Linked DNA regions of Homo sapiens: region 1 is linked to region 2. The links come from fine-mapping of genetic effects on gene expression. A gene starts in region 2. The other region holds a variant in brackets. All regions are shown on one strand. Distances are between the middles of the regions. Region 1 overlaps GYS1 (glycogen synthase 1). Region 2 holds the start of GYS1 (glycogen synthase 1).

Region 1 (5,366 bases), 24 kb before region 2:
TGAGGTAGGAGAATCGCTTGAATCTGGGAGGCGGAGGTTGCAGTGAGCTGAGATGGCGTCATTGCACTCCAGCCTGGGCAAAAAGAGTGGAACTCCCATCTCAAACAAAAAACATGTCTGCCTCACGGAAGTTGCGGTGAGCTGAGATGGCGCCACTGTGCTCCAGCTTGGGCAACAGAGTAAGACTCTGTCTCAAAAAAGAAAAAAGCCTCAATTCTGGGAGGCAGTTGGAATTATTAGGCCCTTTATATGGGCACATTGACGCTATTGCTATGCAACTTGCATGGCAACCGGGGGGCTCACTGAGGTCTTTGCTCCAGAGTTTAAGAGATTATGGCCCGAGCTTGAGTGATCCCAATGTGAGGCGCACACTGAGAGGAACTGGCCAGTGGAGCTGAGCAGCCAGGAACACGTGATGCCCAAGCAATGCTGGACAAGGGGTTTAGGGTTCATCACAGAAATGGGATGTGAAACCTTGGGCCGGATTCTCCAAATGGGAACTGAAGAAGCTTAAAACAGGCCTTAAAAAGCACTTGCTGTGTCCAAGCTGCAAAACTGCTGTGTCAGCTCTGACTCTTCCCCTTCTCCTTCCCCTGGGTCTGGGGCAGGGTGGTTCAAGCCTGTAATCCCAGCACTTTGGGAGGCCAAGGCAGGACGATCACTTGAGCCCAGGAGGTTGAGACCAGCCTAAGCAACATAGGGAGACCCCCCAAGTCTCTCTAGAATAAGAGGATGAGCTCAGACCAGGGAAGGGGTGGTACTGGGGGGACGTCACAGCCAGGCCCACCAAGTGTCATGTCTGACCACACCTGGGATTCTTAAATATAGATGTATTTTTTTCATCTCATCTCCGGACACACTCCAATCACACCCCTCCTGCCCTCCCCTCTCAACTGCAAACCAAGCGGTGCAGACACAGCACAGCACACATGAGGGGCCCTCCCTTTCACCAAAGCTGAAGGCAGGGCACAGTTTGGGGATGGAAGAGCCTCGAGGTAAATGTGGGGGTTCTAGAACCCAGTGACCTCAGTTCTGGATCATGGGAAAGGGATCAGTATGCAGTAACGTGGTAAGGTTCCAGATCTAGAAGCCAGGACCTAGAACCTAGTGGTTTCACAGTGGGCAGAGCAGTTGGGAATAAGCCAGGTTAGGGGTGGGGGAAGACAGCCAGCTCTGTCCTCTGCAGGCGGATTCCCTGGAGGGAGATCTCAGATTTAGAAAGGAAGAGTAGGATCTGGTCCAGAAAGGGCCAGAAAGACAGGAAGGCATCTGGACTGAGACTGTGTGTCCTCCAGAAGGAATGAGCAGCCAAGTGGTTCTACCACCTCTTGCTTGGCCAAAGTGTAGGGGATGACAGGAGCCGGATGGAGGGATCCTCCAGGCAGAGCCTGGCTCTGACATGCCAGGGAGGGCTAGAACATCCCTCCCAGAGCCCCACTTCTGGAGTTGAAATGGAGGACCATCTGCTCTCAGTTACCTTCAAACTCTGAAAGTGCCCCGGCTCTGGACTTGATCGCCCCATTCGCAGGGACACCACGTGGTTTCCAGAACTTGGTGGCCCGCATGCCGGGCCTGAGCGTGGCCTGCTCTGTATGCTGTAGAATTTGTAAGCCACACGGGGGGCTCTAAAAGCCCCAGACCTGAAAGCACCATGCCAGGTTTCCTAAAACCTCTGGCACCACCGCAGAGTAATGGCAGATTCCTGGCCTCTGGGAAGCGGTCCAGGCCCAGGGGACTCCAGGGCGCTGATTATGCATATTCTGGAGCCAGAGAAAGGCACGGCTTTGTGGATTCTGGAGTGCAGGAACTTGGAAACTGGAGCTGGAGGGGGTGGAGTGTTTGGCGGACTGGGTGGGGGCACTGCGGGGCCACACCCAGTGCAGATCTGGAGCGGGGGTTTAGGAGCAGCACCCCTCTGCATCCTCTCTCTGGAGCAGAGAGGCAGGACAGGCGGGGAGTGTGGTGGGGCGGACTTAGTTACGCTCCTCGCCCAGGGAGCTGGTGGGGCTGAGGGGCTCGCTCGGGGTGCTGAGTGAGCTGGAGGTGGCCGTGTCCACAGAGTTGCGCTTGCTGCCGCTGGTGGAGGAGGTGCAGGACGCTCGGCGCGGCCACTCTGGTGCACGGATGTTGCGCCGGTCCTTGGCGGCCTCCTCGTCCTCATCGTAGCGCTCGCCGTCTTCCTCCAGCGGCCCGTTCCGGGGATCCTCCTCGTCCTCACTCTGGTGCGGGCTGGAGTGTCGTGACAGCGAGGGCGACGGTGGCACCGAGGCTGGCCGTGGGTAGCGGTACCCCTGGGCCTGCATACGGCGATGTGGGTGCAAACCAGGGTGAGCTGAGGACCTCACAGTCCCACCCAGGCATCCAGCCACCTCTAGGCCTTCCCACTCCAGGAGGGACCCCCACCCCACCGAAGCCCAGCCCTTTAGCTCCTGGCTAAGCAGAAATCCAGGGTCCACTCACCGCATCCGCCTCGTTGGGCTCGTAGGTGAAGTGCTCTGGAAAGGCCTTGGACAGCGCCATGTGGCGCGCAGACATATAGTACTAGGGGAAAGGAGGAGAGGGGGCAGAGGATGTGAGAGCCAGGCCCCACCCCCAGGCAGATGATGGGGGTCTTGGCCACACCCTTTATGCAGATGAGCACACTGCTGCACCCCATACAAATAATCCATCTATCTGACTCCACCCCTTATGTAGATAAGCAGACCTGTGAATGGACAGTTTCTGAGCCATACCCCTCAAACAGGGGCCGAATTCTCAAGTGAGTCTCCTCTTTGGCCACACCCTTATGCAAATGAGAACGCCTGACCAATGTTCTTTTTTTCTTTTTAAACACGGTCTTGTTCTGTTACTCTAGGATGGAGTGCAGTGGGTTTGAACAAGGCTCACTGCAGCCTCAACCTCCGGGGCTCAAGCGACCCTACCACCTCAGCCTCCCCAGTAGCTGGGACTACAGGCACGCACCATCACGCTCGGCTGATTTTTTTTTATTTTTAGTAAAAATAAAATGTTGCCCAGGCTGGTCTCTTAACTCCTGAGCTCATGCGATCCTTCCTGTTAGGCCTCCCAAAGTGCTGGGATTACAACCATGAGCCACCATCGCGATCGGCCTGGTTCATTGCTTAAAGGGACAGCAACTGTTACAAGTAGGATGAGACCCTGCACCCTGCACCAAAGACCCCTAGCCAGGAGCTGCTGATTTGCCAGGAGAGGATAGGAAAGTGGGGGTCCTACCCGGCCTAGGTATTTCCAGTCCAGAAGGTCGGAGAGGCGCTCCGTGCGGTTCCGCTGGATGATACGCTGCCGCCGGCTCTGCTGACAGAAACTGTAGAGGAAGGAGGTGAGCTGCGAGCAGGAATCATCCAGGCTGCGGAACCGCCGGTCAAGAATGTAGATACCTGTGGAGGCCAGGACCCAGGTTCAGAAAACATCCTGGGGAGATCTTCATGGTCTCCAGG[A/T]CTCTGTGGCACCAGGACCCCTCCTCTCCCAGCGGCCCGAGAGCCCCCCCATTTCCTGGTGCCCCTGGTCTCCAAGGGTGCAAGCTCCTCCTTCCCAGGATCCAGGAGTCACTGTTCTCAAGCCCCCTTCCAGAATCCTCAGGGGCCTGGGCGCTGACCGTAAGCTGAGGGGTCTGCGATGTGTTCCTCCATGAAGCAGCCGAAGCCGGAGAGATTGGTGGAGATACTGGGGATTCCCATAACCGTGCACTCAGCTGCGGGAAGGCAGGAGAGAGACCCACTTAGCTTCCCTCATCGCCTACCGTCTTAATCGCAATAGACGCCTCAACACCGCCCTCTACTGGCGCCTGTACCAAGTGCCAGGCGCTGTGCGGAGCGTCGCTGAGCCCCCACAACCAGGCTGTGCATTTCCCTATTTCTCAGAGGGGACGCTAAGAGGCTCAGAAAAGAGAATTACTTGCTCTTGCTCCAAGATGCGGGAAAGTCCATAGTTGGGAGATAAGGATGCTAATTTATTGAGCATCCCAATATCCATTTGACTTAACTCTCACAACCTGTAGGATCGGGCCAAGGTCCATCATTCTACTTAATTGTCACAACCTGTAAGATCCTTTCTTGTGCCAGTATCTTGTACGGACTTAGTCTATTTTGATGGGGGGTAAGATAAGGTCTCTCATTATTAGTATCCCTGTGTACAGAGCATCTAGTACGTCTTGTTTAATACCTTTAACAACCTTGAGAAATAGTTCAAGGAATGTATTATAATTTTTTGATGGATTTTTATGCTTTTTTTTTTTTCTTTCGAGACAGGGTCTCACTCTGTCACCCAAGCTGTAGTGCAGTGGCACAATCTCGGCTCACTGCAACCTTCACCTCCCGGGTTCAAGCGATTTTCGTGCCTTAGCCACCCGAGTAGCTGGGACTACAGGCACACACCACCATGCCCAGTTAATTATTGTATTTTTTAGTATAGACAGGGTTTCACCATGTTGGCCAGGCAGGTCTTGAACTCCTGACCTCAGGTGATCCATCCGTCTTGGCTTCCCAAAGTGGTCAAATTATAGGTGTGAGCCACTGCGCCTGGCCCAATGCTTTTTTTTTTTTTTTCTCGAGACAAGGTCTCACTTTATCACCCAACCTGGAGGACAGTGGCTTGATCATAGCTCACTGCAGCCTTGACCTCCTAGGCTCAAGCAATCCTCCCACCTCAGCCACCCAAGAGGCTGGGACTACGAGCACACAACACTACGCATGGCTAATTAAAAATAAAAAAAAAAAAGGCCGGGCACGGTGGCTCATGTCTGTAATCCCAGCACTTTGGGAGGCCAAGGCGGGTGGATCACGAGGTCAAGAAGAGAAAAAAAAAAAAACCATCCTGGCCAACATGGTGAAACCCTGTGTCTAATAAAAATACAAAAATTAGCTGGGTGTGGTGGCAGGCGCCTATAGTCCCAGCTACTCTGGAGGCTGAGGCAGGAGAATCACTTGAACCCGGGAGGCGGTTGCAGTGAGCCAAGACTGTGCCACTGCACTCCAGCCTGGCAATAGAGCAAGACTCTGTCTCAAAAAAAAAAAAAAATCTTTTATAGAGACAGGGTCTCACCATGTTGTCCAGGCTGGTCTTGAACTCCTGAGCTCAAGCTATCCTCCCACCTCAGCCTTCCAAGATGCTAGGATTATAGGTGTGAGCCACTGCCCCTGACCTATAATTATTATTATTATTATTTTAGACAGGGTCTGACTCTGTCGCCCAGGCTGGAGTGCAGTGGCGCGATCTCAGCTCACTGCAATCTCTGCCTCTGGGGTTCAAACGATTCTCCCACCTCAACTTCCCGAAGGGCTGGGATTACAGGTGCCTGCCACCACCCCCAGCTAATTTTTGTATTTGTAGTAGAGATAGGGTTTCACCAT
Region 2 (5,353 bases):
CCTTGCAGCCCTTGCTGTTCATGGAATCCAGTGTCCTCTTCAGGGCCGGGGTGGGGGCCTCCAGCAGTTCCACCTGGGTCCTCACGCCCTGCTCCGTGTACGGCCCCACCAGGAAGTAGTTGTCGCCCCATTCGTCCCCTGTCACCTTCGCCTTCGTCTGCAGCACCGTGTAGATGCCACCCACTGTGGGCCCAAGCGTGTGAGGGCAGGCCCCGGCCGAGGTCCATAGTTCTGGGGCCTGGGGTGGGGTGGGCCGGGGATGTAGGGGGCACTCAGGCCCCAGACCTCTAGCTCAGGGGGAAGAGGGGACTGGGAGCCCATAGTTTGGAGTAGGGGTTGGAAGCTTGGATGAGGGGAACACGAGGGCTGGAGGGCAGTCCTCCTGGGTCTAAGGGAGAAGGGGGCTGGGGTCAGGACCCTGAAGGAGGAGGGGGCTCAGGCTAGACTTCTGGGTCTGAGAGAGAAGGGGCTGGGTGCCGGGACCCCTTGGTCTGAAGGAATTAGGCACTGGGGCTCTAAGGATGGCAGAGCTGAGGACTGACTACCCGGACTCAGGTTCCCGAGTTCCCAGCTCACAGGAGCTGGGTTTAAATCGCAGCCAGGCTCCAAAACCCAGTGAGGGAGACCCCCTCATGGCCAATCCAGCTTCTCACCATTGCCCAAGAGAAGCCTGCATGGTCATTCCCTGCCCCCAGGGACCTTGCTGACCTGCCTCCCAATTTCCTCTCCCTGACTAGGGACACCAGCATGCAGGGCTCTGCCTCTCCCATGACCCTATCCCAGACCCAGGAGCCCCAGCCCCCAGCCTCCTCCCATCCTGGAGCCCAGGCCCTGGCGATACCCGGCTGGGTGTTCACGGGCCCCCTCTCCTCCTGGGAGACACAGTCCCTTTCTCCTCCAAGACCCAGCAAAGCAACCCCCCAGACCCTGCTCTTTGAGGTGTGAGATTGGCTTGTTCCTGGGGATTTCAGCCCCAGCCTTCTCCAAGGCCAGAACCTCAGCTTTCTGAAGCCCAAGACACAGAAATGCAGGCTCCTAGCCCCTCCCATCCTAGGGCCCAGCCTCTGACTAACTTAGGACTTCCCAGCCTTCCCCTATTCCAGTACGCATGTGTCCCAGGCCATGGGCTCCTCTACTCCTAGGAACTAATAGCTCAGGCCCTCAGCTCCTTCAAAGCCCAGGCATTCATTACAGTCTCCAGCCCGTCCCATCTTTATTCTTAAGCAGCCAGATCCTCAGGTCCTCCCACCGCCGCTCAGGCCTCCTATCTCCCAGTCAGCTCTCTCTCAAATCTGGAGTTTTATCCCCTAGACCATGCTGTTAGGGTCATAGGTCTGAAACCCCGGCAGCTTCCCAGGTTTGCACGCAGAAATCCCATCCCCCCATCCCCTTCCCTGTTCAGGACCCAGGTATCTAGTCTCTCGGAAGCCTGCCTCCAGGACCTAGGAGTCTCATTTTAGCGCCCTCTTCCCTAGGACCCAGAACCCGGGCTTCCAGCCTCCTTTCATCTTAAGTCAAACGAACCATCCCTCTCCCACCCACCTCCGGCTTCCCAGCCCCTCCTCAAGGACACAGCCTCCTTGCCCAGGTCACAAGGGTTCCCCTAGTAGCCCCGTCCTCCTACAACTCAGAGTTCCGGGCCCCCATCCACTACTGTCCTTCTCGTCAAGGGCCCCGACGCCTGGCGTGCTCACCCTTGTTAGCCACCTCCCAGGCCACTTCGAAGAGCACTGCGTTCTCCAGGTCGAATTCATCCTCCCAGTCCTCCAGTCCTGGCAGTGAGGACATGGACAAAGTGCGGTTTAAAGGCATGGCTGGCGCAGGAAGGGGGGCTCCGGGGATCTCCAGGTAGGGACCCCGGAGGTGTCTAGGGAATGCACCAGGTAGGGTGCGGGGCCGAGTAGCTGGTGCCCGACGGGAAGCTTGCAAGACGCTCGGCTTCCTATTGCAAGACCGCACCCCTGCCCCGAAGCGTTGGGACCTAGGCAGAAGGAGGCCGCAGCGTCACTGAGCCCACTGGCGCCCCTGCAGTGAAACCTCGCAGCCGCCAGGAGGCGGTGGCCGCCCCCCCCAGCCAGCGCCATTGGCCCACGCCCGGGGGCGGGGATTTCCGCGTGTCCTCATTGGTGGAACGGGTTGGAGTCGCTGTGTCCCGGCCCCGCCTCGGCCGTGAGACCTCCAGGGGGCGGAGCTTGCCGCTGCGCTTTACGGAAACGAGTGGCCTTCAGCTCTGTCAATCTGGAGCTGGAGGCCTCAAAGTGGGGAGGAGGAGGAGGGTGGGATAAAGAGGAAAGGAGCGTGGAGGACGTGTGGTTACTCAAAGAACAGCTAAGAATTTTGCAATCGGCCTGAGCGGGGCGGTGGTGGGGCTGAGCAAAAGGAGGAGGAGCCAGGAGACATTGGGAATGGACCCAGGAGTTCCGGACGCCCGTCTTCCAGCGCAGCCTCGGTGGGAGGGCGGGGCATAAAGTCCCGCCACGCCCCCACAATATTTACATATTTATGAGGAACCATCGAGATCTTTGAAGAACCAGCTAGCCTAGAGGAGCCAGAACATCTCGCTCCTCGCGCGTTTCCGTTTCCGCTAGGACTCTGGCAGTTGGTGAGCATCATGGCAACCGTTGTAAGTGTGGGTGCATGGAGGGTGAGGAGCGAGCTAGCAGTCTCGAGTTTGAGAGAGGAGGATGCTGGAGGCCCTGACTCCTGGGTCTGAGGGAGGGGGGATCTGGGGGTTCAGACTCCTGGGTCTGAAAGAGGAGGAAGCTCGGCCACCCAGATCTGGGGGAGAAGGGGACATGGGGGCTGGACTTCTGGATCTGAGGCGGGGAGGGGGCTGGGATCCCAGAATCTCGGGTCTGGCCCCATCATGCTATAGGAACTCCAACTTTCAAAATCATCTTGGCGCAACGGCCGGTTCCGCAGTCCTTGGCGCCAGTGTGTGATGAGGAGGGTTGTAGGACCTTGCGCTTCGAGCCATTTGGGAGCCTTGGATTGTTAGTGGTGCCAATGGCACTTGAGTTCCAAGCTGGAAGCACAGGCAGGTACCTGTTCAGTGTGTCTGAGAGCGCGAGGGCGCCTAGTGAGCCTTTAGTGGGAAGAAATTGTCGAGGAACAAGAGAGTCTTAGTGGAGAGGACTGAAGGATTAGGGACCCAGAAATCGGGATCTTGTCATGCTACCGTTTTGGCCATTTTCATATTTCCAGTATTTCACACGGGCTACGTCTCAGTGTAAATGCTCAATAAATTATCACTTGAATATTTGAATGAATGAATACATGTGAATGAAGGAGAGGCCAGGAAACTTGGCCTGGCACCTGCTCAATTACCTGAATAAAGAAGCGATTTTGGCCTGGCGTGGTGGCTCATGCCTGTAATCCCAGCACTTTGGGAGGCCGAGGCGGGCGGATCACTTCAGGTCAGGAGTTCGTGGCCAACATTGCGAAACCCCGTCTCTATTAAAAATACAAAAATTAGCCAGGTGTGGTGGTGCAGGCCTGTAATCCCAGCTACTCAGAAGGCTGAGGCAGGAGAATCGCTTGAACCTGGGAGGCAGAAGTTGCAGTGAGCCAAGATCGCGCCACTGCATTCCAGCCTGGGCGACAAAGCGAGACTCTGTCTCCAAAAAAAAAAAGGTAATGTGACCTGAACTTAGGGACTGGGCTGGGCTTACAGGTGCCTCAATTTCCATGATGAGCCCAGTCAAGATGGAGGAAGGGAGGGGGAGAAAGTTGTTGGTAGCTGGGGATGAGATTTGAGTCTGTTGCTGTCACCAGGGCAAGGAGGAGGAGGAGGTGGATAGGGAAGTAGAAGAGGAAGGCTATGACCAGAACTACCGTGGAGAAAGTATTGGAAGTATGAGGGGACGGTGTGTGCTGAGTTTTGAAATGACCTTGGTTTTCATGGGAACAGCGGGCAGCAAGGTTTTGGAGAGACTTATGATGAAAGAGAAAGTCTTTATAGGAGACAGTCCTTGGTAAGGGGCCTGTTTATGTTGAGAGAGCTACATTTGGGATTCCTGGATTCATGTCTTTTTTGTGGGGTGGGGATGCCTAGTCTTCTGCTTGTAGTCTGGGGGTAATGTTCTATGCTCCTGGGTTCCAGCTTCCTATAGGAGACGGTAGGTGGGAAGGTTCACACAGTGACAGGGAAAGCTTGTGACCATTGATGGCCAGAAAGTCTAAACGATTGGCTCCAGAGGGAGGAGGCTTCCTCTGGGCTGGATAACTGCATGTCCTCTCTAGGGGAAGAAGAGAAGAAAGACCTGTGGGCTGGGCACAGTGGCTCACGCCTGTAATCCCACACTTTGGGAGTCCGAGGTAGAAGGATTGCTTGAGCCCAGGAATTTAAGACTAGCCCTGGCAACATAGCGAAACCCTGTCTCTACAAAAAAATAAGAAAATTAGGCCGGGTGCGGTGGCTCACACCTGTAATCCCAGCACTTTGGGGGGTCGAGGCGGGCAGGTCATGAGGTCAGGAGTTTGAGAGCAGCCTGGCTAATATGGTGAAACCCCGTCTTTATTAAAAATACAAAAAAAATTAGCCGGGCGTGGTGGCACATGCCTGTAGTCCCAACTACTCTGGAGGCTGAGGCAGGAGAATTGCTTGAACCCGGGAGGCGAAGGTTGCAGTGAGCCGAGATCGCGCCACTGCACTCCAGCCTGGGTGACAGAGTAAGGCTGTGTCTCAAAAAAAAAAAAAAAAGAAAAGAAAAGAGAAGAAAATTAGCCAAGTGTGGTGGGACACACCTGTAGTCCCAACTACTTGGGAGACTAAGGTGGGAGGATTGCTTGAGCCTGGGAGGTGGAGGCCACAGCAGTCCAGCCTGGGGGACAAAATGAGATCTTATCTCAAAAAAAAAAACACAAACCTGTGGGAAGGAAGGAGACCTGGGGATGGGTGGCCTCGGTTAGCATGCTAGCTTCTTAGGCTTCCTTTTCCTTATTAGAAATTATGAACTATTCCAAAGTGTCAGAAAATAATGTAACAGACATGCAAAGATCCACCATCCAGGATTGTTTTTTTGTTTTTTCTTTTTTTCAAGACAGAGTCTCACTCTGTCTCCCAGGCTGGAGTGCAGTGGTGTGATCTTGGCTCCCTGCAGCCTCTGCCTCTCTCCCATGTTCAAATGATCCTCCTGCCTCAGCCTCCTGAGTAGCTGGGACTACAGGTGCGCGTCACCACGCCCAGCTAATTTTTGTATCTGTGTGTGTGTGTGTGTGTGTGTGTGTGTGTGTGTGTGTTAGTGATAGAGTCTTGCTCTGATGCCCAGGCTGGAGTGCAGTGGCGCGATCTCTGCTCGCTACAACCTCCGCCTCCTGGGTTCAAGCAATTCTCCTGCCTCAGCCTCCCAAG

Evidence for each region.
Region 1: its variant is fine-mapped to the expression of GYS1 in whole blood (INTERVAL, PIP 0.98).

Annotation. Positions count from the first base shown.
Region 1 is chr19:48,967,315-48,972,680 of GRCh38, forward strand. GYS1 (glycogen synthase 1) reads right to left here. Exons shown (of 16, transcript NM_002103.5): 13 at 3,614-3,709; 14 at 3,232-3,395; 15 at 2,461-2,541; 16 at 816-2,297. The coding sequence ends at 1,974. Among named protein-coding and RNA genes, the nearest start is that of FTL, 4.7 kb to the left of the region's middle. RefSeq lists enhancers at 1,015-1,244, 3,010-3,537 and a cis regulatory region at 3,514-4,034. The variant A/T (reference allele first, on the strand shown) is at 3,456.
Region 2 is chr19:48,991,301-48,996,653 of GRCh38, forward strand. GYS1 (glycogen synthase 1) reads right to left here and starts at 2,009. Exons shown (of 16, transcript NM_002103.5): 1 at 1,695-2,009; 2 at 2-183. The coding sequence starts at 1,812. It overlaps RUVBL2 (RuvB like AAA ATPase 2), which reads left to right and starts at 2,587. Exons shown (of 15, transcript NM_006666.3): 1 at 2,587-2,623. The coding sequence starts at 2,612. RefSeq lists enhancers at 1,566-1,705, 2,396-2,485 and a silencer at 1,916-2,275.